3 separate regions of the Homo sapiens genome follow, and regions 2 and 3 are each linked to region 1. Evidence: fine-mapped expression QTL. A gene starts in region 1. Each other region holds a variant in brackets. All regions are shown on one strand. Distances are from middle to middle. Region 1 holds the start of LINC01341 (long intergenic non-protein coding RNA 1341). Region 2 has its middle 23 kb from the start of SCCPDH. Region 3 overlaps SCCPDH (saccharopine dehydrogenase (putative)).

The links. PIP is the estimated chance that this variant, and not a neighbour inherited with it, causes the effect.
Region 2: its variant is fine-mapped to the expression of LINC01341 in hypothalamus (GTEx, PIP 0.98).
Region 3: its variant is fine-mapped to the expression of LINC01341 in tibial artery (GTEx, PIP above 0.99). The same link has a PIP of 0.9 or more in adrenal gland, caudate, lung, pituitary and prefrontal cortex.

Annotation. Positions count from the first base shown.
Region 1 is chr1:246,783,994-246,794,426 of GRCh38, reverse strand. It overlaps LINC01341 (long intergenic non-protein coding RNA 1341), which reads right to left and starts at 4,810. Exons shown (of 2, transcript NR_015422.1): 1 at 4,729-4,810; 2 at 2,941-3,981. It also overlaps the pseudogene KIF28P. RefSeq lists an enhancer at 1-134 and a silencer at 5,490-5,569.
Region 2 is chr1:246,696,315-246,706,747 of GRCh38, reverse strand. No RefSeq gene overlaps it. Among named protein-coding and RNA genes, the nearest start is that of SCCPDH, 23 kb to the left of the region's middle. RefSeq lists an enhancer at 7,268-7,697. The variant C/A (reference allele first, on the strand shown) is at 4,528.
Region 3 is chr1:246,749,054-246,759,486 of GRCh38, reverse strand. SCCPDH (saccharopine dehydrogenase (putative)) reads right to left here. Exons shown (of 12, transcript NM_016002.3): 6 at 1,131-1,261; 7 at 336-453. It also overlaps the pseudogene RPL35AP6. Among named protein-coding and RNA genes, the nearest start is that of SCCPDH, 30 kb to the right of the region's middle. RefSeq lists a silencer at 5,315-5,465. The variant C/A (reference allele first, on the strand shown) is at 4,192.

The sequences.
Region 1 (10,433 bases):
CAGCTTTCCTCCCTCCCCAGGAGGGTTGACAAGGTGCACAGAGACGGGAAAGAAGTGTTGCTCTCCCCAGTGGGCTGGTGCGGACTGGTGACACCCAACCCTCTCCACTTCTCCTGCAGGAGCGGCAGATGATGACCTTCCCTCACCTTCTTAACCTCAGCGAGGACCCTCAGCTCACCAGGGTGCTCAAGTACTTCATTCAAGCTGGTACTCAGCCGGCCCCCTGCCCCCGCCCTGCCCTCTCCCCACCCCACCCTCCTGCCTTCCCCTGCCCCAACCCTGCCCTCCCCCTGCCCCTGCTCTCCCCTCCCTGCCCTTCCCCTCCCCCTTCCCTTTCCGTGTCCTTCCCCTCCCCCTTCCTTTCCCTGCCCCCGCCCTGCCTTCTCCCCACCCTGCCCTCCCCCTGTGCTCCCCCTGCCCCTGCCCTGCCTTCTCCCCACCCCGCCCTCCCCTACCCTCCCCCCGTCCCCGCCCTTCCCATGCTTCTTGCCCCACAGGCATGTTTCTTTTCTTTCTTGTTTTTTAAATATTTTTCATTTTGGTAAAATATACATAAAGTTCATTTGAACCATTTTAAGAGTACAGCTCAGTGGCATAAAGTACATTCATATTGTGTGACCATCACCACCATCCATCTGCAGTACATTTTCATCTTCCCAGACGGAAACTCTGTACCCATGAAACGGGAGCTGCCCCTCCCCCTCCAGCCCTGGGAGCCACTGTCCCACCTTCTGTCTCTGTGTGTTTGACAGTGGGGGGACCTCAGATAACCCCTCCCCCTCCAGCCCTGGGAGCCAGTGTCCTACCTTCTGTCTCTGTGCGTTTGACGATGGGGGGACCTCAGATAACCCCTCCCCATCCAGACCAGCAGCCACTGTCCCACCTTCTGTCTCTGTGTGTTTGAGGATGGGGGACCTCAGCTAACCCCTCCCCCTCCAGCCCTGGGAGCCAGTGTCCCACCTTCTGTCTCTGTGCGTTTGACGATGGGGGGACCTCAGATAACCCCTCCCCATCCAGCCCTGGGAGCCAGTGTCCCACCTTCTGTCTCTGTGTGTTTGAGGATGGGGGGACCTCAGATAACCCCTCCCCCTCCAGTCCAGCAGCCACTGTCCCACCTTCTGTCTCTGTGCGTTTGACAATGGGGGGACCTCAGATAACCCCTCCCCCTCCAGCCCTGGAAGCCAGTGTCCCACCTTCTGTCTCTGTGGATTTGACGATGGGGGACCTCAGATAAGGACCTTTTCATCCATCTCTCACTGGCTTATGCCCTCAGCAGAATGTCCTCAAGGTGCATCCATGTAGCATGTGTGAGAATTTCCTTCCTCTTGAAGGCTGAAAACCATTCCCTCGGATGTATACAGCACGTTTTATTCATCTATTATCCTGGCATCGTTCTTGTTACATTTTTGTTTAGCGGTTTCTGAGGAGGGCATCAGCTGTTGAATTGTCTTCCTGACCTAAATGAGTGCTGAACAGGTTGGAACACAGCGCCCAGAACCGCAGGAGCCCCTGGCTTCCCCTCCCCGGCTGTGCACCCCCAGGACGGCCGCGAGGGCTCCGTGCACCCCCAGGACGGCCGCGAGGGCTCCGAGCACCCCAAGGACGGCCGCAAGGGCTCCGTGCACCCCCCAGGGCCGCCGCGAGGGCTCCGTGCACCCCCCAGGGCGGCCGCGAGGGCTCCGTGCGAGATGGCCGTGGGATGTGGGGATGTGGGGGGTGACATGTCTGCACTCCTTGGGGTCAGTCACTACACAGAAACGGAGCTTCAAACACCAGAACCTCTGCTGTGGCCAGTATTCAGTGGGTCTCCTAAGGCCCAGACCTAATGGTGTCTTCCTCCAGAATGCTCATGAAGAAGGTGGAACTTTTTAAAAGTTAGGAACATCCCCGCTCTTCCCCCCACACACAAGGCAGAAAGAAAAGTATGTCTAAGTACCATTATGATTGAAAATCCCAACTGGAAAAATCCCTTCAGTACCATCCCACTGTAGAGAAAACGTCACTTCCAACGCATCAGACATGTTAACTTCTTACGCTCAAATTCTGAAAGTGTCTGATTTATTTTCAAAATAAATTATATCTTGATTCCTTTCAGGTTCATGTGGCACCGGTCAGGCTGCCTCAAATGCTATCACGATTCAAGGTTTGGGGTGAGTTTCCATGATCAGTGTCCTCGTCCAGCATTAGAGAATTGTGCCTCCTCCATCTAGAGGTCTGCAGAGCCACACAGTCTGCAGGACAAGCAGGGACACTGCCCAGGTCTCCCCGGGCCACCTACTCCAGGGCTGGTCTGAGAAAGCTGAGGGCAGGGCTTTCGTCCTCTGGCTGAAATCTAGGGTGCAGTGCTGGTTTGCTTCCTGGGCTCCAACCCTGGGAGAAAAGGGAAAGCTGGTTTCTAGATTCTGTGTAATAATTCTTCACAAACAGATATAAGTAGAGCAGGCCAGGAAACGAAGGGGGCTGAACGAACAAGCCCACCGGGGGTGGCCCAAACATAAGCGCATCCCTGGATCTCTCCTGGTGCTTGGAGCCCTGACCCACCGGACTACAGAAAGCCCAGACTGTGGAGTGACCCCAAGGGCTCCCTCAGGAGGCCCCGCAGGAGCCCTGGGAAACCCCATGCCGGGCCTCACCCAGTCAAGAGCTGTCCCCAGCTCTGTGGCTGCCCTGCCTGGGAGGCTGCTGCTGGAGTGTCCTCCTCCTGCTTCCAGCTCTCCAGCTGGGAAGCACCATCACCTACATCCTTCAGACAGATCACCCCCTGCCCCCGTACGAAAGCCCACGGGCCGTCGTGGCTGGAGGGGTGCTGACCCAGGGGCCGGCTGGCCCCGCCTCGTCCTGCACTGCCAGCCTCCTTCTTGGGACATCTTCCTGGGGATCCCCCTCAAGTCCCTTTCCAGAACACGTCCTTAGTCCAACGCACAGGTGCGTAAATGTCTGAACTCCAGTGATGAGGCCGCAACCTTTCCCACAGGATCCCTGGGCCCCATGCAAAAAAGGGTTTGGATGCACACGGGTCTCCACATCCAGAACATTCCATGATGGCCAAGGAGTGCAGGAACATGGAACATGCTAAGGCAGGGAGCCAGTCATTCAGGACACACAGATGACATCGGTGCAGGGGAGCAGGGCGGGGAGAGGGGATGCCAACCTGACACCCCGACGTCCAGCCCCAAATCCTATAAGGTCTGAATTTATACGGCGAGGGCGCAGAAACAGATCAAAACGTACCCGGAGTAGGTGAGGCTCGTTAAGAGTCGCCTCCTGAGCGTCTCTTCTGAAGCTTGCTTGCTGCCATCTTCCCACCACCCCATCCCGCTGGCCTGGGAGCGGGAGGACTCCAGTGTGGCCTTGGCCGGCTCCCCGCAGTGCTAGGCCCTCAGCTGGTGTTCGTTCTGTTAATGAAGCCCTTGCCTGCTGTCTCCCAGCTCCCCGTGCTCCCCAAGGGCAGGGTCCTTCTGCGCCCGCTGCTGTCCCCATGCATCATGGGCCACAGCACACAGGAGGCCCCGAGATGCCACCTGCCATCCTCCGCAGCTGTAGACCTTCCCTCCTGTGCACATGAGAAAGGTCAGCCTACCTGCTCACGGAAACCGCCGTTTGCTGGGTGTCTTTGACTCTCATCTTCTTAGAATTTCAGATAAACACGCTTCCTTCACAAATGCCGACGGTAAAGTGACGGTCACTCCACATAGCAAATGCAAGGTTGCCGTTAACGGGGTGCCCATCACCACCAGGACAAAGCTGCAGCATTTGGTAAACTTTCCTGCAGGCTCACAGAATGTCCTAGGTCCCCCCCAAGAGCTGGGAGGGGACAGTCATGTGAGGTGCCCACATCACAGACGTGGCAGGATGGGGCGTTCACACCAGCTCCTCTGCCACCATGGCTTGGGGACAACATGGCACCACTGCTGGAGGGACAGGCCTGCTCCTGACTCACTGTGTGGTCTTGGGCAAGTCACTTCACTCCTCTGACCTCACCTGGAAAACAAGGAGGGCTGAACTAGGTGTTCTCCAAGGTCCCTTCCAGCTCTAACATTTTGTGCCATTTTAGATTTTTCTAAGAGCCTGTCACTGAGAGGGGTTGAACAGCATCTTGCAAACATCGCTGCCTCTTCCTCCCCAATCTGCCAACCCTGGGGCCCCTGCCAGCTTCCCAGCAGCCCTCTCCCCTCCCTGGTGGCCACAGCCTTTCAGACAGGACAGGCAGATGGGGATTGGCCGCTCCCCATTTGGAAAGCCCCCTCAGTGACCTCCCTCGGCCTCCTGTCCCTGGCCACACTGCCCTTCTTTTGGTTGTTCAGCAGCCGTCTCTGCCTCACCAAGACTTACCGCCCAGGAGGGCTTAGCTTGGGCATCACGCCTCGGAAAAGGCCGTCTGTAGCCTGTAGTCTGAGTTAGGTCCTGGTGTCCCCTGCAGCCATTGCTGCACTCACCCAGACCAGCCTGGAAAGCGTGGAGGGAGGGCCTGGCTCTGGGTGGTCCCCACAGAACCCCAGGGCCAAGGGAGTCACGCCCTCAATGTGTGCAATGAAGGTGAACGCAGGAGCCAGAGGCCACCTCCCTCCTGTCTGCGTCTCTCCCTGTCTGGGGGATTCCTGAGGGGAGGACATTCCTCAGATCCTTCTCACTGGGGAGGTTCACCTCACCCTCCTTGGCCTCGAACCCCTCCTGAGCCCACCGTCTCCTCCCCAGGACCGCCTGATTTTGGGATCCAACAGCACCTACCTGTACGTGGGGTTTCCTTCGGAGTGGGGCAGTGAGGACCTGAGCAGGTTCGATTACGACTTCTTCCAGCTGGAGAGGGCGGCTGCGGAGGGAGCGAGTGCAGACAAACTCGGTGAGCCCCCTCCTGACTGCTGGCCTCTCCCGTGTGCTGATCTGAGAGCAGCGATTTCACACTGTGTCTCTCTGCTTTCCTTAAGAACATCATCATTTGTTTTGTCAAAGTCTGATGTTTACAAAATTGAATTATGATTTCCATATAGAGTGACTACATGGTAAACATTCAACTCGTTAAACGTTCCCTGAGGAATGAGGGTAAAGATGGTTCAAAGGGGTAGAGAAGAGAGTGGGGTACCCAGCAAATGAGAGAAGAATGCTGAGCTGGAGAAGCCAGTTAGTGGCCTCCGGCCGCCCCCAGGGGCCTGCTGGGCCTGCAGAAGCAGTGGCCCAACTCCAGAGGGGCCGGCTGGGGCCTGCTGTGGGCTGCAAATGCGCGGCCCGGAAGAACGTGCAGCCCGAGGCCTCTGAGACAGAATCTCCCCTCCTCGCCCGAACGCAGCCCCCAGCAGTAGCCCACGCGGGCCGCCCGCCGCTGCCGGTCTCTGCTGGGGCTTTCGCGCGCCTTCCCCGCCCCTCTCCCCGCCCCGATTCACCGCGCTCCGGGCGGCTCCCCCAGAATCCTGGCCAGGCCGGAGCCCGCTGCGATCTGAGTGACCTGCGGGCTTCCCGGAGGGGCCCCACGCTTTGCTCGGCACCGGGACTCTGCCTGAACTCGCAGTAATGAAACCGCTGGTGGAAAGTGGGCAGATCCACCTGTGTGTGTGCAAGAGCTCCTCCCTGTCCCCACACCACAGTGTTTCTCTCAGAATTTCAGCAAAATAAATCGATTAGAAATTCACCTCCTTGCTCTTCTTCTGCTGAAGTTTTCGACTTTTAAAAATGAACAAGGCCGGGCGCGGTGGCTCACGCCTGTAATCCCAGCCCTTTGAGAGGCCGAGGCGGGCAGATCACGAGGTCAGGAGATCGAGACCATCCTGGCTAACACAGTGAAACCCCGTCTCTACTAAAAATACAAAAAAGTAGCCGGATGTGATGGCACACACCTGTAGTCCCAGCTACTCAGGAGGCTGAGGCAGGAGAATTGCCTGAACCTGGGAGGAGGAGGTTGCAGTGAGCTGAGATCGTGCCACAGCACTCCAGCCTGGGTGACAGAGCGAGACTCCATTTCAAAACAAAACAAAACAAAACAAAACAACGAACCAGTAAGACTCTGTCATACCAGGCCCGGAAAAGCCATCTGTTCATTGACCTGTCCTCAGAGGTTGACCGTGCCACTGCCCCTGTGGCCCTGGTGGCGCCATGAAGCTGAACCAGCCCCAGACCCTGGCTCGGACCCTAGGGAAGACTTGGGTCCCCAACAAGGCAGCAGCTGTGTGAGCAGTTTGGGGTCAGACCTCAGGGCCAAGGGCACTGTGTGCACCCACAGGCCAGGGGTCTCTAAGAGTTGAGATTTCCTGATTAGAGGCAGTACCAGCCTGGGTTTGGGAGGGAGATTGATCCTCCCATAATCTCCACGAGCCCCTCCTTCAAGCCACCCCAAGTATAAGAGAAGCACAGGTCACTTGCTGTGCCAGCAGCAGCTTGAGGATACCTCCAGGCCTTCCGTCTAGCCAGCCATGTTTCACCTCGCCCCACCCTCCTCCAGTCTGGAGCCACCTTGGGTCAAGGACCCTGAGACCAAGAATGGGAACTGGGGGCAGAGGACCTCCTGCCTGCGGCCAGGATTCATGGGTCGAGATAAGCAACCACGTAAGGAGAAGCCAGGCAGTGTCATTTTCCCTTGTTTGTTTTTAAATTACATGCTTGTAATTTTAAAATGTAGATATTTGATGAACAGCTGAACAAATGAATGAACAAATAAGCATACACATTTATTCATGGCGGCTGGGCGTGGTGTCTCATGCCTGTAATCCTAGCACTTTGAGAGGCCAAGGCAGGAGGATCGCTTGAACCTGGGAGTTCAAGACCAGCCTGGGAAACAAAGTGAGACCTCATCTCTACAAAATATTTTAAAAATTAGCCAGGCATGGTGGCTTGCACCCGTAGTCCCAGGTACTCAGCAGGCTGAGATGGGAGGATTGCTTGAGTCTGGGAGGTGGAGGCTGCAATGAGCAGAGATCATGCCACTGAACGCTAGCCTGGACGACAGAGCAAGACAGCTGTCTAAAAAAAAAAGAAAAAGGGCTTGGCATGGTGGCTCATGCCTGTACGCCTGTAATTCCAGCACTTTTGGAGGCCGAGGTGGGCAGATCACCTGAGGTCAGGAGTTCGAGACCAGCCTGGCCAACATAGTGAAACCCCATCTCTACTAAAAATACAAAAATTAGCCGGGTGTGGTAGTGCGCACCTGTAATCCCAGCTACTCAGGAGGCTGAGGCAGGAGAATTGCTTCAACTTGGGAGGCAGAGGTTGCAGCGAGCCGAGATGGCGCCACTGCACTCCAGCCTGGGCAACGAGAGTGAAACTCTATTTCAAAAAAAAAAAAAAAAAAAAATTCTTCATGGCGGAACAAGTGACTGACTTTCGCCTCCACTGTGATTGTTGCCAGGTGCTGCGGACGGTGGAGACGGCAAGGCGGGCCCCAGTGTCCTGGCTGCGTTCCAGGACTACATCAAACTGATGCCGCTGGTTCAGAAGCAAATCAAATGAGTGAAGAGCCAAAGAAGGTAAGTTAGCTGGAGCCAGGAGCTGGTGTGCCAGGTGCAGAAAGGACCTCAAGGCCTTGTGGGGCAGGGGTGCGTTCCCAGGGACTCTCAGGGAACTAGCCACAGAAGCCAGACTGCCCAGCCCAGGCCCGAGTACCATTCCTTTCACCAACAGCCTACCAGGGCCACCGGGATCCCAGACCAACTCTTGCTGGCCATGAGCAGGCCCTCCCAGATGGTCCTGGGGCCTCTCCGGGTCTAGGCACCCTGATGGCTGCTGTGCCACACAGACCACCTGGGCTGGGGACAGCTCCCTGGAGACGTGAGCTCCCATCGGCCGGAACCTTGTAAGAGATTTAATCAATTTGGTAGGGACTCCAAGTGTTAGTTCCAGGATATAATGGAGAAAATCTGGTGCTCTGTCTTTCCTCTTAGTGGGAAATCCAAGGGGCAAGAGTGGGACATCTTAGAGAGAGTCTTATTCATTCATCATTTAGGAAGCCCGAGGGTGGGAGAATGAAAAATAAATTGCAAAGGTGGTATGAGCTGTGAATGTAGGATTTTTTTTTTCTTTTTGACAGGGTCTCAATCTGCCGCCCAGGCTGGAATGCAGTGGTGCAATCATGGTTTACTGCAACCTCCACTTCCCGGGTTCAAGTGATCCTCCCACCTCTGCCTCCCAAGTAGCTGGGATTACAGGTGTGCACTTCCATGCCTGGCTAATTTTTGTATTTTTAGTAGAGATGGGGTTTTGCTATGTTGCCCAGGCTGGTCTTGAACTCCTGGGCTCAAGCGATCCACTCGCCTCAGCCTCCCAAAGTGCTGGGATTACAGGCATGAGGGACTGTGCCCAGCAGAATGTACAATTATTTAGTGAGAAGTGTTTCTTTTACCAGGGACTTAACATGGAATTGAAGGTGAAAAATTTGGCATCGTCAGATTCCAGGGGCTATGACCTACAGAAGGAGGTCTTGGTGAAGGTGACCCACCACGGGTCTCACGAGGTGAGGCCCCACAGGGATGGGACTCAGGAGGTGAGGATCCATGGGGATGGGACTCAGGAGGTGAGGATCCACGGGGACGGGACTCAGGAGGTGAAGATCCATGGGGACGGGACTCAGGAGGTGAGGATCCACGGGGAAGGGACTCAGGAGGTGAAGATCCATGGGGACGGGACTCAGGAGGTGAAGATCCATGGGGAAGGGACTCAGGAGGTGAGGATCCACGGGGAAGGGACTCAGGAGGTGAAGATCCATGGGGACGGGACTCAGGAGGTGAGGCCGCACGGGGACGGGACTCAGGAGGTGAGGATCCACGGGGACGGGACCCAGGAGGTGAGGATCCATGGGGACACAGGTTATCTTTACCAGCTGCAGCCTCCGGAGACCCAGTCAAGGGCAAAACGTATTCCAAGTATGAGCTGGAGCTCTGGGGAACAGGGGGATCCACTCTCCCGTTCCCTGTCCTGGGTCCTCCCTCCCAGCACCAGCCATTCCCTGTCCTGCACCCTCCCTCACAGCACCAGCTCCTGGGAGCGTTCCTAAGCTAGCCTGCACTGAGCATCTGTTCATGCTGAGTATGACTCAAAGGCTTTTGTACCAGAAGGGAGCCTGGGAGTTTATACAAGTGGTAGTGGTGTCTGTCCATGCACGTAGGTGCGTGTGTGTGTGTGCAAGTGTGTGTTTGTGTGTACATGTGCCCGTGAGAACACAGACTGCCTTTCTGCAGCAATGAGAAAAGCAATCCTCCTAGGGACTCCAGAAAAGGCTGTTTCACCAACTCCACTGGCTGGACCTTACTATCAGGAAATTCCATTTTAGAAACTTAAGACCCTGTTTCCTCTCCCTCTGCCTCCAAAGGAGGAAACAGAAATGCAGGCCCATCTTGCAGCACCCCTTGTGCATATCAGGCCCCTGGAGGAGCAGCCCTCAGGCTTCCGGCTCCAGCACACTCACCCGTTGCCTTTCCAGACTGCGCCTCCGGCCCCCACCCCGGGCTGCTCCCTCCCTGCTCAGCAATTGAAGCTTCTCTGAGTTTCACTTTTCTGCTCATCTGCTCATCGCCCGAAAATTGCCAAAATGTTCTGGGCCGAGACCGATTTTTGTAAAGCTTTTAAAAATTGTGAAATGAGCTAAGACTATAAGCATGTGTGTGCGTCCCATGTGGTCAGCACCTGTGCACTGCATCCACCACCCCGTCCACGGGGTTTCGCCCTCCAGGTGCTGGGGCTGCCAAGATGCTGCCCCAGGGAGGAAACCAAGCAAGGATCCTCCTGGAGCCCAGCTCCTCAGAGACCGGCCCCTTTCCTGCAGGTCTGTGTGATGCAGACAGGGTCTCCCGTGAGACCCTCACCCTAGGGAGTCAGCATGGACTTCTCTGCCATGTTCCGTGAGGCCTTGGAGGGGACCCCTCAGTGTGTTTGTACTTTGCATTTTTCTTTTTTTTCCAGCAAAGGCCACTGGGGCAAAGTGGCTCTGGTGCCCCGATATTCCACGTGCCTCTTTCGGGCCAGGCTTTCCCCTAGAATTTGGCTTGGCAGTTTCCTGTCTTGTCAGACCTTGTTTTAAGAAAATTTGTAATTCTAAAAAACCATTTTCCATGCTATTCTATTTTGTATTATAGTCCAAGGTAGTTCGAAAAATAGCCTTTTAAACTGTTGCTAACAGAAGGGTTATTGAGTGCACACGAAGACACTCATGAGCACCTGCCTGTCATTACCAGAAACAGAACAGGAGACGGTGTTCTCACACTTATCATTGGGAGAATTGTATGGGAGGGCTGAGGGCCTGGATTCATGCCCTCATTTTCCTTCAGCCCAGCATCCTGTCACTGGGACAGGTAGCTGTCTGATAGGACTGCTTCTGCTTAAACATACCAGGTTCTCTTTTAAGGGGGTCGTACAGTTTGTTTTTTTTTTTTTCTATTTTTTTTCTCATGAAGATATGAATCTTACCAATCTGTCTTCCTCAAGACTGTCCATTTTTACATTAAAACAGTAAGATT
Region 2 (10,433 bases), 88 kb after region 1:
ACTTTAACCTCCACGTCCCCAAGCTCAAGTGATCCTCCCACCTCAGCCTCCCAAGTACCTGGGACCAGGCTGAGTAGGCTGAGGAGGAACAGGTGGGGTTGGTCTTGCTGTCTCAAGGGCAGCAGAGATGGAGATGGAAGAAAGTTTACGTATAAGTAGATCTGTGAAGTTCAAACCTGCGTTGTTTAAGGATCAACTGCAAAGATCATATTGTCTGCAAATAGGCCATTTGATTCCTCATTTCCAATTTGGATACCCTTTATTTCTTTCTCTTGCCAATTGCTCTGGCTGGGTCCTTAACGTTTTTAAATTGTATATGTTTAAGGTATAGAATATAATGTTTTGGTGCACTTAATAAATATCCTTAACATTATTTGATGGCCATTTTTTTCTGATTTCACATTATATTCAAATTAACGAAAAAAATCCACATAGTACTGGTAGACATAATTTAAGTACTTCCCTACAGATGTACATTTAGACCTTTTCCAATTTGTCACTTTTTTTTTTTTTTAAGACGGACTCTTGCTTTGTCTCCAGGCTGGAGTGCAGTGGTGTGATCTCGGCTCACTGCAACCTCCTGTAATCTCTGCCTCCCAGGTTCAAGCGATTCTCCTGCCTCAGCCTCCCAAGTAGCTGGGATTACAGGTGCATGCCACCATGCCTGGCTAATTTTTTGAATTTTAGTAGAGACGGGGTTTCACCATGTTGGCCAGGATGGTCTCAATCTCCTGACCTTGTGATCCGCCCGCCTCGGCCTCCCAAAGTGCTGGGATTAGAGGCGTGAGCCACCGCGCCTGGCTCACTATACATATTCTTATATAACTTTTCCTTCTTAATAATCGTATTAGAGTAAATTTCCACATCTAAGATTACCGTGCCAAAAGCTCTTGCTCTCTATCCTGTATTTCACATCTATGGTACGTTTATTGAAGTATGGCTTGGGCCTGTCTGTATATATCAGTACGTGAACCTGAACTACTTCTATGGCCATTGCAAACATAAAGGTCTGGGGAAGCAAAATCTTGGTGAACAAATAGAGTTTCCAAACTTTTTTACTAGATCATGTTTTGATAATGGGGGAGGGAAAGTAGTGTCTTTCTTTACTTATGAATCATAGCAATAAGTAATTGGTTATTTAGCCTTCCAGAAAATAGATTCTGACTTATGTTTATGGGCAGAAAAGATTTCCCACAAGATATTTGGGCGTTGTCTGAATGTCTGAAATTGCTCAACTCACTTGCTACATTCTTTCAGTACTGCCTCACTATAGAAAGAACCAGAGAGATGGAAAATAAGTTTACCACTAAGACGGTTTTACATCACATTCTTTCAGTACGGCCTCACTATAGAAAAAAACAGAGAAAGGGAAAATAAGTTTACCATTAAGATGGTTTTACACCACATTCTTTTTCTCTTTGAGATTTATTTTTTAAAAAATCTTCGAGTCAGGTCAGGCACATTCACGCCTGCCATCTCAACACTTTGGGAGGCTGAGGCAGAAGGATCACCTGAGCCCAGGAGTTTGAGACTAGCCTGGGCAACATAATGAGATCCTGACTCTACAGAAAAATAGGAAAATTAGCCAGGAGTGGTGGTGCACACCTGTAGTCCCAGCTACTCAGGAGACTGAGAGGGGAGGATCACTTGAGCCCAGGAGTTCAAGGCTGCAGTAAGCTATGATCATGCCACTGTACTCCAGCCTGGATGACAGAGCAAGACCCCATCTCAAAAAAAAAAAAAAAAAAAATCTCCAAGTCCACAGAAAGATTAAAAAATGATAATAATACAATAAATACCCATATGCTCTTCTTAATTCACTAATTGTTAACATTTTGCCACTGTTTTTCTCTATCTCCATACATATATTTTTTTCTGAACCATTTAAAAGTTGCAAATATACTGACCTTCGCCCCTAAAATTTTCTAGCATTCACTTATTTCTTGAGAACAAAGACATTCTCCTACATAATCATAGCACCATTATCACACTGAAGAAATGTAACATTGTTACAATAATATGAACTAATAGCTGGAATATATTCACATTTCAAATTGTCTTGAAAATGTCTCATAATATTTTTTAAAATCCAGGCTTCAATCTTCAATCGAGGATTATACATTTGGTTGTCATGTCTCTTTAACCTCCTGGAATCTGGAAGAGTAACCTCTTTTAAAAAAATCTTTTATGACTGACATTTTTGAAGAGTTCAGGCCAGTTGACATGTAGAATGTCACACAATCTGGATTTGTCTGACTGTATCCTCAGAATTGGATCCAGGTTTAAAAATTCAGCAAGAATACTACATTGGTGATTTTTTTTTTTTTTTTTAACAGTCTTGCTCTTGTCGCCCAGGCTGGAGCAGTGGTGCAGTCTTGGCTCACTGCAACCTCCACCCCCCAGGTTCAAGCGATTCTCCTGCCTCAACTTCCCGTGTAGCTGGGATTACGGTGTGCACCGCCATGCCTGGCTGATTATTGTGTTTTTAGTAGAGATGGGGTTTCGCCATGGTAGCCAGGCTGGTCTCAAACTCCTGACCTCAAGCAATCCACCCACCTTGGCCTCTCAAAGTGCTGGGATTACAAGTGTGAGCCACCGCCTGCATTGGTGATTTTAGTAGGAACTATTCTAAGGTGATCCCCAAACGACCCTTGTCCTTGTGTCACTTCCTTCCCGTAAATGTAGGTAGAGCCTGTGAATGTGAAGAGCTGCCGCTCCTGTGGCTATGTGACCTTCAACGACGAGGAATTTCACAGATGTAGTTAAGGTCTCAAATAAATTTATCTGAAATTTGAGAGATTACTCAAATGGGCCTAGCCATTTAAATCCTGGTCTAGAGATCAAGACGGAGGAAGCCAGAAATGTGAATTTCAAGAAGGGCTCAATGTGTCTTTGATGGCTTAAAGATACAGGAAACCCCAGGGCCGGGAGTGCAGGGAGCCTCTCGGAGCTGAAGCAGCTCCTGGCTGACAGCCAGCGAGGAAACCAGGAAACCTGGGTCTTGCAACCACAAGGAACTGAATTCTGCCAACGACAAGAATGAGTTTTAAAGCAGATTTTGCCCGGAGCCTCCAGATGGGAACTCAGCCTGGTCCGCAACTTGATTTCAGCCCAGACATGCTGTGCCAGGCTTTTTTATTTATTTATGTAGAGAAGGAGTCTCGCTCTGTTGCCCAGGCTGGAGTGCAGTGGCGTGATCTCGGCTTGCTACGCTACAACCTCTGCCTCCCGGGTTCAAACGATTCTTCTGCCTCAGCCTCCTGAGTAGCTGGGATTACAGGCGCGTGCCACCATGCCCAGCTAATTTTTGTATTTTCAGTAGAGATGGGGTTTCACCATGTTGGCCAGGCTGGTCTCGAATACCTGACCTCAGGTGATCCACCCACCTCAGCCTCCCAAAGTGCTGGGATTACAGGTGTGAGCCACCGCACCCAGCCAGCAGTTTTCTAATTCTATTGTTCCTTCTGTATTTATCAGCTGGAAGTTGGGAAAATAATTTCTTCATCAACTATTTGTTTACTCTGAAATATTACTGCTAAGGAAAAACAGGAAAAAATACCTGATTTTTTCTTTTTACCAATTTTCAAGATGATAACAGATCAAGTAATATTTTTAGAATCATTATAAACTAATGGGTTTTTATTTGTTTAATATGTTTCAATACATCACAGTCAAAATTTTTCTTGATATTCAAATTGTCCCATCTTTGGCCACTAGTATTCCCTTCAAGTTAGCATCTGTATTCTTTTTTTCTTCTTTATTGAGGTATAAAATAAATATAATAAAGTTTTAAAATACATTACCCTGAAATGTAGAAATCATTGAATTTTAATATATATACGCACCCTGCAACCACCACTCAGATCAAGATACAGGATGTTCCCAGCACCAGAGGATTTCCCTGTACTCCTTTTCATTCAGCACCATCCTCTCCAGGGGTAACCACTATTCTGATTTATTGAACTTCATATAAAAGGAATCATTCAGCCAGGTGCAGTGGCTCACACCTGTAATCCCAGCACTTTGGGAGGCCGAGGTGAGTGGATCACCTAAAGTCGGGAGTTTGAGACCAGCCTGGCCAACGTGGTGAAACCCCATCTCTACTAAAGATACAAAAATTAGCCAGGTGAGGTGGCACATCCCTGTAATCCCAGCTACTCGGGAGGCTGAGGCAGGAGAATCACTTGAACCTGGGAGGCGGAGCTCGCAGTGAGCCAAGATCGTGCCACTGCACTCCAGCCTGGGCAACAGAGCGAGACTCTGTCTCAAGAAAAGAAAGGAATCATTTGGTATGCACTCTTTTTGTATCTGGTTTCTTTCATTCAGCATAATGTCTAAGATTCATCCATATTGCTGCATATATCAGTAATTCCTTATTTTTATTGCTGTATAACACTATGCCATATGAATATAGTTTTTAGTTAAATTTTTATTCTTTTTTTCCTTTTTTTTTTTCTTTGTGAGATGGAGTCTCACTCTGTTTCCCCGGCTGGAGTGCAATGGCGCAATCTTAGCTCACTGCAATCT[C/A]CGCCTCCCGGGTTCAAGTGATTTTCCTGCCTCAGCCTCCCGAGTAGCTGGGACTACAGGTATGCACCACCACACTCAACTTATTTTTGTATTTTTGGTAGAGATGGGGTTTCACCATGTTGGCCAGGCTGGTCTCAAACTCCTGACCTCAAGTTATCCACCCACTTTGGCCTCCCAAATTGGTCGGAGTATAGGCATGAGCCACTGTGCCTGGCCAGTTTAGTTTTTTGTTTGTTTGCTTTTTGTTTTTTGATTTTTGTTTTTTTTTTTGAGACAGAGTCTTGCTCTGTCGCCCAGGCTGGAGTGCAGTGGTGCGATCTCGGCTCACTGCAAGCTCCGCCTCCTGGGTTCACGCCATCCTCCTGCCTCAGCCTCCCAAGTAGCTGGGACTACAGGCGCCCGCCACCACGCCCGACTAATTTTTTTTTTGTATCTTTAGTAGAGATGGGGTTTCACTATGTTGGCCAGGATGGTCTTGATCTCCTGACCTTGTGATCCACCCGCCTCGGCCTCCCAAAGTGCTGGGATTACACGTGTGAGCAGTTTAGTTTTTATTCTGCTGCTGATAGCTAATTGGGACACTTCTAGCTTTACTATTATGAATAAGGCTGCTCTGAACTTTCTCATACACAAGGCTTACTACTCAAGTGTACTCATTTCTCTTGGATTTATACCTAGGAGTGAAATTGCCAGAGTAAAGGGTAGGTGTATGTTTAGCTCTGGTAGATCCTGCTAAGCAGTTTTCAAAAGTGGCTGCTTCGGTTAACACTTCAACTAGTAACTGATGAGAGAAAGTTCCAGTTGCTCCCTAACATCATCAACACTTGGTATTCCCCATCCTTTTAATTTTTGAGTTGTTATGTAATGATATTTCATTGCACTTTTAATGTGTGTTTACCTGGTAACTAATGATATAGATCACATTTTCTTATGTCTTTTGGTCATTTGGATATCCTCTTTTTTTTTTTTTTGAGACAGAATCTCGCTCTGTTGCCCAGGCTGGAGTGCAGTGGTGCAATCTCGGCTCACTGCAAGCTCCGTCTCCCGGGTTCACGCCATTCTCCTGCCTCAGCCTCCCAAGTAGCTGGGACTACAGGCGCCGGCCACCACACCCGGCTAATTTTTTGTACATTTAGTAGAGACGGGGTTTCACCATGTTAGCCAGGATGGTCTTGATCTCCTGACCTCGTGATCCACCCGCCTCAGCCTCCCAAAGTGCTGGGATTACAGGCATGAGCCACCGCACCCGGCTATAATCAGAATAATTTATTATGAAAATTAAAATATTCTCAAAATGAGTAAGGAGGATTAACATGTGACATCTAATGAAACATATTGATTTAATCATGTATGGCCTCCAGCTAATTACACACCCACATCTAGCTGTGAGACACACTCTGCTGTTGCCAACTGTCATCTGCACATGTAAGTTTCCAAATTCCATAAGTGAGGTGACTCGAAGTCATAAGAGAAAACTATATTTTGGTTGCCTGATAGTGACTCTCATCTCTGCCTTCCAAGAATCTATGCAGAACTGTGAGGAATCCAGGTTTTGTTTCATCCAGACCCAGGCTTGCCACGAGACATACCTTTAGGCTGCCTGGCATGTATTAATATTCCAGGAAACGGTGCGTTATGCTGGGTTTGGGCCTTTTTTCATTCTATTTCATATACATCTGGCACATATACAAATGTAAATGTCATTTCCATAATAGTTCTTATTGAGCCAGGTGCAGTGGCTTATGCCAGTAATTCCAGCACTTTGAGAGGCCAAGGTGGGAGAATTACTTGAGCCCAGGAGTTTGAGACCAGCCTGAGCAACATGGTGAAACCCCATCTCTACAAAAATAAATAAATTAGCCAGACGTGGTGGCAGGCACCTGCGGTCCCAGCTACTCAGGAGGCTAAGGTGGGAAGATTGATTGAGCCCAGGAGTTTGAGGTTGCAGTGAGCCCAGGAGTTTGAGTGCCGTGATGGCGCCACGGCACCCCAGCCTGGGCGACGACAAGACCCTGTCTCAAACCACCCCCAACCAAAAAAACCCCAAAATAGTTGTTATTCTTTTTTTCCTATATTTTCTGTGAACCCAATAGCAGTGGTTTATGCAATATCTTTCCTAAGTCCTAGTAAGAACAAAACTCCCACAAATTACTGCAAACTAGAACATTTCAAATAAATATTCTATAATAACAAAAATGATACAAGTTGGCCAGACGCCGTGGTTCACGCCTGTAATCCCAGCACTTTGGAGGCCGAGGCAGGCAGATCACCTGAGCTCAGGAGTTCGAGACAAGCCTGGCCAACACGGCAAAACCCCATATCTACTAAAACAAAACAAAACAAAACAAAACAAATACAAAAAATCAACTGGGCGTGGTGGCGCACGCCTGTAGTCCCAGCTACTCAGGAGGCTGAGGCAGGAGAATCACTTGAGCCTGGGAAGTAGAGGTTGCAGTGAGCCGAGATTGTGTCACTGCACTCCAGCCTCGGTGACAAAGTGAGACCCTGTCTCAAAAAAAAAAAAAAAAAAGATACAACTCATAAAACAAAATGATAAATACATTGGCACACACTGTGTCACATAGTAAGGGCTGGATTCCTAAGTTAATGAAGATTATTTAGTTGTCATCTTTATGAACATAAAACATTTCATATAAAAAGGAAATATCTCATTTAATTATCAAACAACCTGTAGGATGGGCACTCCGACCCCTGTTTTTCGCGTCTGAGGCCCGTGCACTGTCCTTCCTCGCTTTGTGTTTCGTTTCCAGGGCCTCTTACCAAGGTGTCTCTCTGGTCCTCGCTGTGAGGTGGGTCTTGGTTTCTCCGGACTGAATACTTCCTTCAGGAAGGGAACTTGTGGGGTCACTAGATGGCGCTCTCCGGCTCCTCTTGCCCGAAGGCGGCGTATTTTGATTGGCTTGTGTACTTCCCGGATCAAAGCACCTCTGGGCATTTTCATAACGACTCTTCTTACTGTTTGGGCTATAAATAGCCAGTGACTCTGCTCCACACAGCGTCCCCAGCCTAAGCCCTGCTTGAAGCCCTGTTTGTCTCCCTCAGGAGACCGAGCCCATCTGTTTCACTCTCTTCCTGAGATCATTCTCAGAAGTAGATTAAGCATGTTTCTTTTTCTCTTTTTAATTTAAACTCTACTTATTCATTTTGTAGAGATGGGGGTCTCACTATGTTGCCCAGGCTGGTCTCAAACTCCTAAACTCAAGTAATCCTCCCACTTCGGCTCCCAAAGTGCAGGGATTAGAGGCGTGAGCCACCCCGCCCGGCCACCTAAGCGGTTTTTAGCCCAGCAGCAGAAACATCTAGCAAATAGGAGCCCCACTAGCCACTCCCTCATTAGAAGATGTAAGGGGCATCTATGGGACATAATCCAATATAGGCACAGAGAACCACAGTTGCTGTTTTTCCTTCGGTTGCTCCTCCCTGGATGGGCCATACAGAATTCTGTCTCCTATAGCAGGAGGCTCACAGGCACCCCGTGGGAGGGAGATCTTCTAGCATGCAGAACACCATTTGACACTTACTAACAGGTGGCAATGGATGTTGATATGAAAGAGGTTGGTTTGCCTTCGTGGTGCTCCTCCCTGAGGTATCTGTGGGTCCAAGGCAAATGAAACACAGAAGGCTGTGGGAGGGAAGCTGGGAGAGTGGAGACTGAATGAGTGGGAAAGGAAGATGGGGTTTCCTGGTGCCCACCCTTGGTGGTCTAAGCACAGGTGAAGGGTTACCTAAGGAATCAGTAAAGAAATATTTGCAGCCGGCGCGGTGGCTCACGCCTGTAATCCCAGCACATTGGGAGGCCGAGGCAGGAGGATCACTCGAGGCAAGAAGTTTGAGACCAGCCTGGCCAACGTGGTGAAACCCCGTCTCTACAAAAAATACAAAATTTAGCCGGGCATGGTGGCACACGCTTGTAATTCCAGCTACTCAGGAGGCTGAGGCAGGAGAATTGCCTGAACCCAGGAGGCAGAGGATGCAGTGAGCCAAGATCATGCCTGGGTGACAGAGCAAGAGTCCGTCTCAAAAAAAGGAAGAAAGAAAGAAATGTTTGCACCATCATCTAGCCCTTTGGGTAAGAATGAGTTCTGAACACCCAGCAGGAGCATCATGTAGGTAGGCACAGTGACGAGTGGGACTGCCATCCTCCTTGGCTCACACAATTCTACCAGACCGGTTTACTGCAACGTCCTCTGTCTCCCCAGGAATGCACGCTAGAATCAAGGCAGGGAAACTGATGTTCAGTGGGAATATCTGGGTAAGCACTATCAAACACATTTACTAGCTCTCTTGAGACCAAAGCCATCCAAATTAGACTGCTGATATCTATTTGTTTACAGGAATTAAATAAGGATAAGAGAGCCAGGCATGGTGGCAGTGCCTGTGGTCCCAGGTACTCAGGAGGCTGAGGCGGGAGGATCACATAGGCCAGGAGCTCGAGGCTGCAGTGATTGTACCAGCGCACTGCAGCCTGGGGGACAGAGCGAGACCTCATCTCTCTCTCTCTTTTTTTTTTTTTTTTCAGATGGAGTCTCTCTGTCACCCAGGTTGGAGTGCAGTGGCGTGATCTCGGTTCACTGCAACCTCTGCCTCCTGGGTTCAAGCGATTCTCCTGCCTTAGCCTCCCGAGTAGTTGGGACTACAGGTGTGCACCACCACGCCCGGCTAATTTTTGTATTTTTAGTAGAAATGGGGTTTCACCATACTGGCCAGGCTGGTCTCCAACTCCTGACCTTGTGATCCGTCCACCTCAGCCTCCCAAAGTGCTGGGATTACAGGCATGAGCCATGGCGCCCGGCCGACCTCATCTCTTAAAAAAAAAAAAAAAAGAAAGATTTAAACCAACAACAAAAAACCCCTAACAAACATGTGATAGTTGGATTGCGAATACCGATTGGATTAGGGTGTGGCTGAGAAAACCTTGACCCAGCAGGGGCAGAAAGAAGGCACTGCCTTCGGGGCTGGATCAGAGAGGTGCTTTCCCGAGCGGCTTCCTGAGCTGCTCAGCGTTCTGGAGAGAAGGTGGCTTATTTCTGCCCCTTCCCCTGCGGCCGCTGGGCCACGCTCTGGAGGCCGGAGCCCTCCGTGTGCGCCTCTGCTCTGACTCCCGAGGGATGTCGGGCAGCTGAAGCCAGGCAGGGCTCCCGGGTGTGTGACTGTGGTTGTGAGAGTGTCCTCATGCCACATGACAGCGTGGGAAAGGGGCTTGTCTGTTCCTGTAAGGGCACCAAGGCTTCCTGGTTGTATCATTTCCCTTTGGATTTTTGACAGGATCCTTCCCATTCCCAGTGGATTCGGGAAAATCCTTTCGGGCCACTGGTCAGCATTCTTTTCCTCCAGCGAGCTGGGGCACCTCCATAAAGCTGACAGGCAAGGCGCAGGGCCCTCCTCACCACACACACACAGACACACACACACACACACACACACACACACACACGCCTACACACACACACACACACACACACACACACACACACACACACGCCTTTCAGTCACCGCAGGGCAGGGCCCCTGCGCCCAGCATGATGCTGTTCCTTTTGGAAACCACGAGGTGGCGCTGCTGAGACAAGGTCAAAGGTGAGGCTCGTTCCCCTGCGCTGCGAGCAAGAGGCGGCGCCCCTGGTCTGAGTCCTCAGCAGGATCCTGTCCTGGCTGCCGGTGCTGTGGCTTATTCATTGATTTTCCCATCACTTCAGCAAACATTGACTGAGTGCTACCAGGAGCCAAGAAATGGACAATGATCCATGTTCATTGCTATAGTACCTGAACACTTAAAAACACGCTCCCGGGCGGGTGACGCACGCCTGTAATCCCAGCTACTGAGACCTACTGAGGAGGCTGAGGCAGGAGAATCGCTTCAACCCGGGAGGTGGAGGCTGCAGTGAGCC
Region 3 (10,433 bases), 35 kb after region 1:
AGAAAGGGTTCCAGACATTTCCACAAGCAAAAGAGTTTCTAGCAACTGAAACCCTAAACAGGGATTCTGGGGTGCTTATGACAGCAGGATTTCCCGTATTGAATTTGCTGCTATTGTGTTACATTAAAAAGATATTCAGCAGCCAGATCTGAATCAAAAGACAAGGTTATAAAATACAAAATGTTCTACCCTAATGATTCTGTGTATTTCCAGAGGCTGAAACATGTATTACTTAGCTCTTCCTTTTTCTGCCTTATAAACAAAAATATCCCACACTGAATAGAAAGAGGAACTGTAACACACACTTTATTGATAAATAAACCATATATACTTACTGGTGATTCCTCTAAATTTTCATACAAGTAACGTTGAGTCCTCCTTACAACAGACACATCAGATCCCATAAAAGGAATGGAATAACCTTTGAGTTCCCGACAATAAGAAATTGGCCACCTGCAAGACAGACCTATGAATATTTTGCATTTCCTGCAATTACAACTTTGGCTGGTAAATGTCTGAATAAGCAAATCAGTGGCAGGGCATGGTGGCTCATGCCTGTAATCCCAGCACTTTGGGAGGCCGAGGCAGGAGGATCACTTAAGGCCAGGACTTTGAGACCAACTTGGGCAACAAAGAGAGACTCTGTCTCAAAAGAAAAAAAAAACCAGAACGCTCCTTTCAACAGCCCAACCCTAAATTCTTACCTCTAAACTTCTCACATATGTCCTGCAGTATAAAACTAAACTAAAATAAATTTTTAAAAAAGAAAAAAAGTTCTCACATAAAATTTAGTTGACAGTTAATTTCTATATTGATAGTGAAAAGTCATCATAAGATTCACTTATTTCCTAGGATTCACATGTTTTATTACACACGAAGTACTTAAGCTTATGGTAATGGATTAATTATGTCTTATTTATCTTAAGCTTATGGTAATGGATTAATTATATCTTATTTATCTCAAGCATATGGTAATGGATTAATTATATCTTATTTATCTGTGAAAACAATTCTGAACTTACTACAAATTAGTCTCCAAGCTTTTCTTAGTAACATACTTTATTAATAGCCAACCCAACAACAATATACTTAGACTAGATATATAAAAAATGGATTTTAAGTTAATTTACCTTCTCTTCAATTTTGGACCAATGAGCGGGACAGGTTTCAGATTTGATACATTTCTTAGTTTTCTCAAATTACTCTGATCTCCAAAACCATAAATTGCTGACTTCCAGGTACCATCATGAATGCTCAACCCCTAATAAAATATTTCAAGAGTTAAAGAAACATGAAAGGGTAGTTACTAAAATGTAAAGCCAAGTAACTTATCATTGTTACAAACAATATTTCACTTATATTTGGACAAGACATAATCCCTGATTTAATAATCTTGAGGAGAATTTTCATGACCAGCTAGGGAGCAGTCACATTCATTAGCTTGATCATACCCAATATTTACACCGAGAAGCCCTTTCTTCTCCCCTCCTATCATTCTTTATATTCTGTAATAAGTTATTTAGTTTTACTTCATCAATTTTACTCAACTAATTGACCATATTCCTTCAAGATCAGCCACTCTAATCCTTTTTTTTCTGCCCCATATGATCTGCAGGAATAGCCACCCTAATCCTCTCTCGATCCTACACAAATTCCTCAACATTTCTGGATATGTCCGTGTGCACATTTATGCATACATACACTGTGTACTGTCCATCTCTCCATCCTGTTACACCTGGTTCCCCGTCTACCTCCAACACCTCTTACTCTAGCCCCAAGTTATAGATCTGTCTTCCTACTGAAGTCTTAGTAAAATAATTGTTTAAAACATTTAAAGTTCACTAATAATGATTTGTATTTTAATTGCTTTCCTCAATCCCTTGATTTCTTTTTGGTATCACAGCCAGTACAGAGTCCTTAGTATTTGCCTGATCTTACTCAGACTCTCATTTATTCACTGATTTTTCATCCTTTCATGAGACTTTGGGCTGTCAGTGCCTTCCATTCTACCAATACTCTTTACAGCTTCCCCAACCCTTACCTCTAGCGCCACCGAGAAACGAGTGGCTGAGACCCCAGGAGAGGACACGACCTCTGAATTTACTATCACAGCGCTGGCCCTTTTTTTTTTTTTTTTTTTTTGAGACAGAGTCTTGCTCTTGTCACCCAGACGGGAGTGCAATGGCACGATCTCAGCTCACTGCAACCTCTGCCTCCTAGGTTCAAGCAATTCTCCTGTCTCAACCTCCCGAGTAGCTGGGATTACAGGTGCCCACCACCATGCCTGGCTAATTTTTGTATTTTTAGTAAAGACGGGGTTTCACCATGTTGGCCAGGCTGGTCTCGAACTTCTGACCTCAGGCAAGCCGCCCGCCTTGGCCTCCCAAAGTGCTGGGATTGCAGGCATGAGCCACCGCGCCCGGCCTAGCACTGACCTTTCTTTCCCAACCTCTAGGTGGGCCTTTTAATTCTCTATTACAGGAATAAACTTCATTTATTATATTGATTGTACATAATTGTATTATGTCCTTCCTTCTATGTTGTTTACATTGTTTAGGTCAACAGAGTAATTCAGAAAGATTCAAAACTAATTCTGTCACAAGATTTTCAAAGAGGGATATGTGGGAGGCAGATATGAAGGTACCTTTCATTGTTAATAAACAAAATAAGAGAAACAATAAAACCATCCAAAGATTCAGGTTTTCCTATCTCAGCTTTGATGATACTGAAAAGCAGAGATACCAAATCTAACTTTCATTCTGGTACAGATTTATTTCTTCTGTTTTATTAAAACTACAACAGAACTAAAGTCTTAAAGGTTTGATTTGTTATCTACTCAATCTGAGCCTAGCCAAAAGGGCCTATGTGAATCTCTACAAATGTAAAGATTCCAAACACCAGGAGAAAACAGCTTTTTAAAAATCTAAACATATTTTCTTATACAACTAAGCCATTGAAAAGGAAAAAATTACATTCAATTTAAAAAACTATTTGCGTTTCACAGAAAAATATAGAGACGTACCTAATACAATTTTATTAAATTGTATATTCATGTATGTTATGAAGCCAACGTACATGTAAACATCCAGGTCAAGAACTACAGGTAACCAGCAACTAAGAAGGCCCTCCTTCCGTCCTGCCTTTACAGTAATCAAGAAAAATTCTTTTCTTTAGAGTTTAATCACCTAAGAATTCATCCCTAAACAGTACAATTAGTTTTGCCTGTTTCTAAGCTCTACAGAAATGCAATCAAGCAAGATTTATTACTGAGTGTTTGGCTTCTTATGCTCAAAATTGTGATGTCAGGATTTACCACGTGTTGTAAGTAACTCCTACATTGCAGCTAGCCTTTTGACTTTCTTAATCGTGTGTTTTGGGAAACATTCTCAATTTTAAAAGTACACAAACGTATCACTTTTTCATTACATTTAATGCCTCTTTGTCTTTTTGTAAAAGCCATTCCCAACCGTGAGGGCATCCACAATCCATCTAAACTTGATTTTGGTACGGGGTGCAAAAGTATGAATCCAATTCCATTTTTTCTCCAAGTAGATACTCAATTGTCCCAGCAGCATCTACCGAAAAGCCCCCTTGCTGTTCCTGCCAACTTGAAGCCCGGAGGCCTGCTGGGAGGAGGAATTCTAAATGACAAGTATGCCTGGAAAGCTGTGGTCCAAGGCCGTTTTTGCCGTCAGCAGGATCTCCAGAACCAAAGGGAGGACACAGCTCTTCTTAAAACTGAAGGTATTTATGGCTGACATAAAATGAGATTTGATTTGGGCAGGAAATGCGCTTATGTGTACAAAGAATAATACTGACTCCTGGCAGCAAACCAAACAAAACCAGAGTAAGGTGGAGAAAGGTAACGTGTGCCCACGGAAACAGTGGCACAATGTGTGCCTAATTCCAAAGCAGCCGTCCTGCTTAGGCCACTAGTCACGGCGGCTCTGTGATGCTGTACTCCTCAAGGATTTGAACTAATGAAAAGTAAATAAATACCAGTAAAAGTGGATTTGTAAAAAGAAAAGAAAAATGATAGGAAAAGCCCCTTTACCATATGTCAAGGGTTTATGCTGACTTAATAACAGGTCTTGATCTCCAAGAGTGTCTTTCTGCCTTATTCTCTTTCAAGAATATCTTGCCTGTTCTCAGCCCTTTGAGTTTCCACATACATTTTAGAAACAGCTTGTC[C/A]AGATGCACATCGAAACAAAACAAACAAAAAAACCTGTTTGTGATTTTGATGGGAATTGCATGAGATTATAAACAAATTTGAAGAAAATTAACTACAAAATGGATTCATATTTTAATCCATGAATACGCTGGATCCTTCAATTTATGTCTTCTTTATGGTCCCTCAATAAAGGTTTACAGTTTTCTTCAAAGAAATCTTGTACACTTTCTATTACTTACTCTTAGGTACTTGATTTATTTAATGCTATCATAAATGGTGTTTTTTACAAAAATAATCACCTTCTAACTGTAGCTGGCATACAGAAATACAGCTGATTTTTATATTAATTTCATATCCAGGAACAATAAAAACTATTGTGGAAATAAATGAAACAGAATAGAAAAAATCAACAAAACTAAAAGTTGGTTCTTTGAAGAGGTCAACAAAACTGACACATTTTGGCTAGACAGACCAAAAAAAAGAGAAAGAAAACCCAAACTACTAAAATCAGGAATAAAAGAGGGAACATTATTACCAACCTTATAGAAATAAAAAGGAGTATAAAGGAATACTATGAAAAGTGTATGCCAACAAATTAGATAACCTAGGTGAAACGGACACATGTCTGCTCAGTGGATCACGACCCTCTCACACGGACCCCCTTAGAGTTGTAAGCCCTTAAAAGGGACAGGAATTGCTCACTCGCGGAGCTCGACTGCTGGAGACGTGAGTCTTGCCGAAGCTCCCAGCCGAATAAAGCCCTTCCTTCTTTAACTTGGTGTCTGAGGGGTTTTGTCTGCAGCTTATCCTGCTACAGCCTAGTTGAAAAAATTTATGTTCAAGTGCTATTTCTTTTGCGGCACTGAAAATTTACTTCTAACAAATTTGGGGGCCCGCCCGGGATTCCCATTCTCCTTTGGTGAAGGGTCTGGTCCTCTCCCATGAGGAGGCATGCCCCGCTGCCTTGTTGCAGTGGCCTCAGGGGTAAGGAATCAAGACCCACCGGGTGTGACAAATAAACCCGGACTCTCAGCAATGCAGAAAGAAACTGGCTGGCGACCTGGGGAAAGGGATCATCACACACCGCAGCGACCAGGTAACTCTGTGCACAGACCAAGGTAAGAAACACCACAGGAGCAGCCAAGCGTTTCCTCGGTGGTCGGGATACTCTGCGGGGGTTGAAAGTGTGTGTGAATGCGAGGAGCCTCCAGCAGGTGGGGCTAAAGGATAGGAGACACATCTCTAAGATGAGAGATGGGGCCTAACCAGGACCCAATATGGGAAATACCCCAAGCAAGACAGGGACCAAGAAGGACAAAGATAACAAGGATATTCCCCTTGAGTGCCCCCTAGGTCTCATGTTAAAATACTAGAAGGATAATGAAAGGACCAAAAACAAGAAAAAGCAGCTGCTGTCCCAGACCCTTCTCCTATCCCCATTGTCCCCCTCCTTATAACCCTGCCTCCTGGGAACTGTCCCAGGAGCCCACTCACTACGAGCGTTAAGTCCTCTTCCCTAAAAGGACTTCAGCGTGAGATAGAGCAATGTAAAAAGGATTTTCAGAACTTCCCTTTCCTCTCTTCTCGGGGGAAGAAAGAGCCACGATCCGTCGAACTGCTATGGGAGTCTTGGAACGTGAACACCCTTCTGGCCAAAACGTTCCTACAGCGGATCAAAAATTTCCCGCCCAAAACCTCAGGTGGGACAATAACAATGCAGCCCCTCAAGAAAATATGCAGGACCTTAGGGAATTGATAATAAAGGGGATTAAAGAATCAGTATCCCAGAATCTTACCCAAACATTTTATGTACAGCAAGGGAAAGATGAAGCACCTATAAAATTTTTTAGATTAAAGGAACAAATGAGAAAATATGCTGGTCTAGGTCTCGAGGATCCTCTTGGGCAGGGAATGTTAAAACTGCATTTTGTCACTAACAGTTGGCCAGATATTAATAAGAAATTACAAAAGATAGAGAACTGGAAAGATAAACCTATAGAAGAGCTTCTAAGAGAAGCCCAAAAAGTGTATGTAAGAAGAGATGAAGAAAAAAGCAGAAAGCAAAAATTCTGCTGTCTACCATACAACAAAGTACCCAGGGGGCCAGAACCTGTAAAGAACCTAGACCCCCACTCTCCAGGCAACATAAAGAGGATGAAAGAGTAAAGCCAGGAGACTCAAAGGTAGAGAAAAAAAATCCTAGAGGAGAAAGACTGACAGGGAACAGAAGGAGTCAAGGAGAGAGAAAGAGAGAGAGAGAGAGTCAAAGAAAAAGAGAGAGAGAGAAAGAGACAGAGAGGCAAAGAGAGAGAAAGAGACAGAGAGGCGGAGAGAGAGAGAGACAGAGACACAGACGAAGAGGCAAAGGGAGAGAAAGAGGACAAAACAAATGTTTCGAATTAAAAATAGGTCACTTCAAAAGACAATGTCCCAAATGGGAAAAAGAACAAAAGTCATATATAAAAGCAAATCAGTTCATATTAAATTTCTGTTAATTCCAGAGGCAGGAACAAACTTATCAGAGAGAGATTTAGTACTAAAATTTGGCTTACGCCTCTATATTGATTAGGGAAAATTCCTCCCCTCCCTAAACTTGCTCCCCACCGCAGACAAAGAACACATTCATCCCAAGGTATGGTCAAAAGACAGGAATCGAGGAAAGTTACAGATTCCTCCGATTCGTGTTAAATTAAAAAAATTAAAAACCCCTGGGGAAGTAGAAAAGAGAAAGCAATACCCTATTCCTTTAAAAGTGAGGGTAAATTTAAAACCTACAATTGATAATTGAAGGTCTTCTCTGTGACGGGCTGCTTAAACCCTGTATGTCTCCCTATAACACTCAAATTCTGCCTGTAAAGAAGCCAGATGGGTCATACTGGTTAGTGCAAGAACTTAGAGCTATTAATCAGATAGCCAAACAGACTACCGTTTCTTAGCTGTACAACTGGCCTGCTTTGCAGCTAGGGAAAACCTAGGACACATGGAGTTAAATGCTAGGAGAAGCCAGACCTCATCTGCACTTCTGTCTAGGTCCTAGGCTCTACACCTAGCACATAATTAAAATCCCAAACTTACAAGGTTTTCAACAAAAGTAAAGTTTGCTAAAAGTTAAGTCTAACATGTATGATCCTAACTTCTAATCTTGTGGCCTCAGGCAGTCTAGTCCACAGACATGAAGGCAGTGTGCTTTGGAAAAGAATGGTTATCATCTTTGACATTAAAAAAAAAGGAGAATTAGCCGGGCGCGGTGGCTCAGGCCTGTAATCCCAGCACTTTGGGAGGCCGAGGCGGGTGAAGCATGAGGTCAGGAGATGAGACCATCCTGGCTAACACGGTGAAAGCCCGTCTCTACTAAAAAAATACAAAAAAAAAAAAATTAGCCGGGCGTGGTGGCGGGAGCCTGTAGCCCCAGCTACTCAGGAGGCTGAGGCAGGAGAATGGCATGAACCCGGGAGGCGAGCTTGCAGTGAGCTGAGACTGCGCCACTGCACTCCAGCCTGGGCGACAGAGCGAGACTCCATCTCAAAAAAAAAAAAAAAGGAGAATTTATGTAAAAAGAATCTTATATGGTAAATTCTTGTCCTAAAGTAAATTAACTGGTTGTTTAAAGAAAGGGATATTTACGACAAGTCAGAAAGTTAAGGCATGTCAAAGGTCGTCTGTGAAAGTCGTGAAAAATGTTATAAAAGGGAATTTATGCAAGAAATGTCATATAATTGAAAAGTAATTAGGCCTCCTGAATGTAAAACTATTGAAGAAACAGTTTATGTGCAAGGTGTGTAAGGAAAGTAAAATATACTTTTGGTAAAAGGATTATAAGGAGGCATAAGAATGTGGATTTTTACCTACATTAAAAGGTTAAAAATTGTTTTGAAGGTTTAAGCAAGGTTTGAAAAGTTAATTGTAAAGGAAATTCTGTGTGTAAACATATTGGTTAAAGTTTCTGTAAACTGGACATTAAAATAAAAGCACAACAGGTTTTTCTTAAAGTACTAACCTGTTCTTTAACAAAAATTATAAAGGGTTAAAAAGAGTCTATAAAAAACTTATGGTCAGACATTAAAATTGGATAAATATGTCTAAAAGGTTTTATTAAAATTGAGTTTAACATTAATAGCACACTAATAGAAAGGTGACATTTAGCTGATCTGCTAATTGTCAAATATAAAATGGCATTTGGGTTTCTTTGGTCTAAAAAATTAATAAAAACAGTTGCTAAAGAGAATTCTGAAGGAAAATGGATACTGCCAGACCAGAGAGAAATGTTATCCAAACCCCTTATGAGCGAAATGTTGTTCCAGCTGCGTCAAGGGACCCACTGGGGGCCCCACGCCATGTGTGACGCAGTCCTCAGAGTTTATGGGTGCACAGGAATTTATACCCCGGCCAAACGGGTTACAGACAGTTGCTCAGTATGTAAGAAAACCAATAAACAAACTATAAAAAGATTACCCCTTGGGGGAAGGAGTCCAGGCTTAAGGCCATTCCAAAGTATCCAGATTCATTACACAGAGATGCCTCCAATTGGTCGTCTAAAGTATTTATTAGTAATAATAGATCACCTTACTCGTTGGGTACAAACTATTCCCTTTTCAAGTACAACTGCTAGTAATGTAGTCAAGGCATTAGTTGAAAATATTATACCCAGGTTTAGATTAATAGAAAGCATTGACTCAGATAATAGGACTCATTTCACTGTACATGTCATTAAGAAATTAGCCCAGGTACTGGATATAACATGGGAATATCATACTCCCTGGCACCCACCTTCATCAGGAAGAGTGGAAAGAATGAACCAAACTCTAAAAAAGCCACCTAACCAAATTAGTCTAGAGACTCGGGTGCCATGGACTAGCTGCCATCCCATTGCCCTGCCTAGAATCTGAACTGCCCCTCGGAAAGATGTTCGCTTATCCCCTTACGAAGTGTTGTATAGGTTGCCCTGTTTGCACTCCACTGCTGACATTCCCACAGTCAAAACAAAAGATCAGTTCCTCAGAAATTGTATGTTTGGTTTATCTTCCACTTTCTCGTCCCTCAGAACTATAGGTCTTTCAGCACAGGTACCCCCCCGCTAGAGTTTCCAGTACACCAACATTAGCATGAGGACCGTGTCCTTGTCAAAAGCTAAAGGGAAGGAAAACTCGAACCCGCTTTCGAAGGACCCTACCTAGTGCTTCTAAGCACCAAGACCGCGGTTCGAACAGCAGAAAGAGGATGGACTCATTACACCTGGGTCCAAAGAGCACCACCCCCTCCAGAATCATGGACAGCTATTCCAGGGCCAACTCCAACCAAGCTAAAGCGAAAATGGGTTTGAACCTCCTATACTGCATCTCTTTCTTTTCCCCTTCTATTGCTAGTCCTCTCTTTACTAGTGTAACTAGGTCAAGTTCACCCCAAACCATTACTTTTGACGCTTGCCTTCTGATGCCCTGTGAAGATTTGTCAAACCAGAGGCAAATCTACACTTTAGAAAAGTATCTTTATCCTTCCTAGCTCTCCTCAGACTGGAAATCTGTTAACTGAGATAAGTTAGTTTGGGAGGACTTTGACAAAGAGTCCAGTATGAACTGGGAATCTTGTCCTCCTAGAGCAGAGCTTCTCTGCCGAAATTTGTCCGATGCTCTATAAAACACCAAAGAGCAAGGACGGACGGCCCCAACTAGTACTTGCAGCTTCTTAAAACCATACATTCATTTTACTAAAGGAGTTTCCCCTCCCCATGGTCAGCTGAACCAATGTAATCCAGCACAGATGACGACTGCTGCTCCCCAGAGTTCTTCCCCTTCATTAGGCCATTTCTGTGGTGTAGGAGAAGTCTCAGGGAAGGACCCCATAGGATCCTTTGAAATGTACTTCATTGCCTCCTCACATCCTGCACCCCCTTCTCCCTCGTCTAAGTTCTCCACTAACCAAACTTTCTCTCATTATATACCCAATGATAAAACCTATGTAGCTACTGTAGAGGTTAAAGATTTAAAACAAACTACAGCAATTGAAACAGGGTATCTGGATGCAAATGCTTGGCTGGAATGGATAAAATATTCTGTTTGCACGCTAAACAAAAGCGACGGTTATGCTTGTGCAACAGGCAGGCCAGATACCCAAACTGTCCCCTTTCCACCTGGGTGGTTCTCTCATGACTGGGCATGAGCTGTGTGGTAGCTCTCTTCCAGAACCCTACAGCCGAGGCGATGAGTCATGCAAGACTCTTTCACTGCTGTTCCCTGAGGTCAAGAGCCTTGTGGGTCAGCCCCCG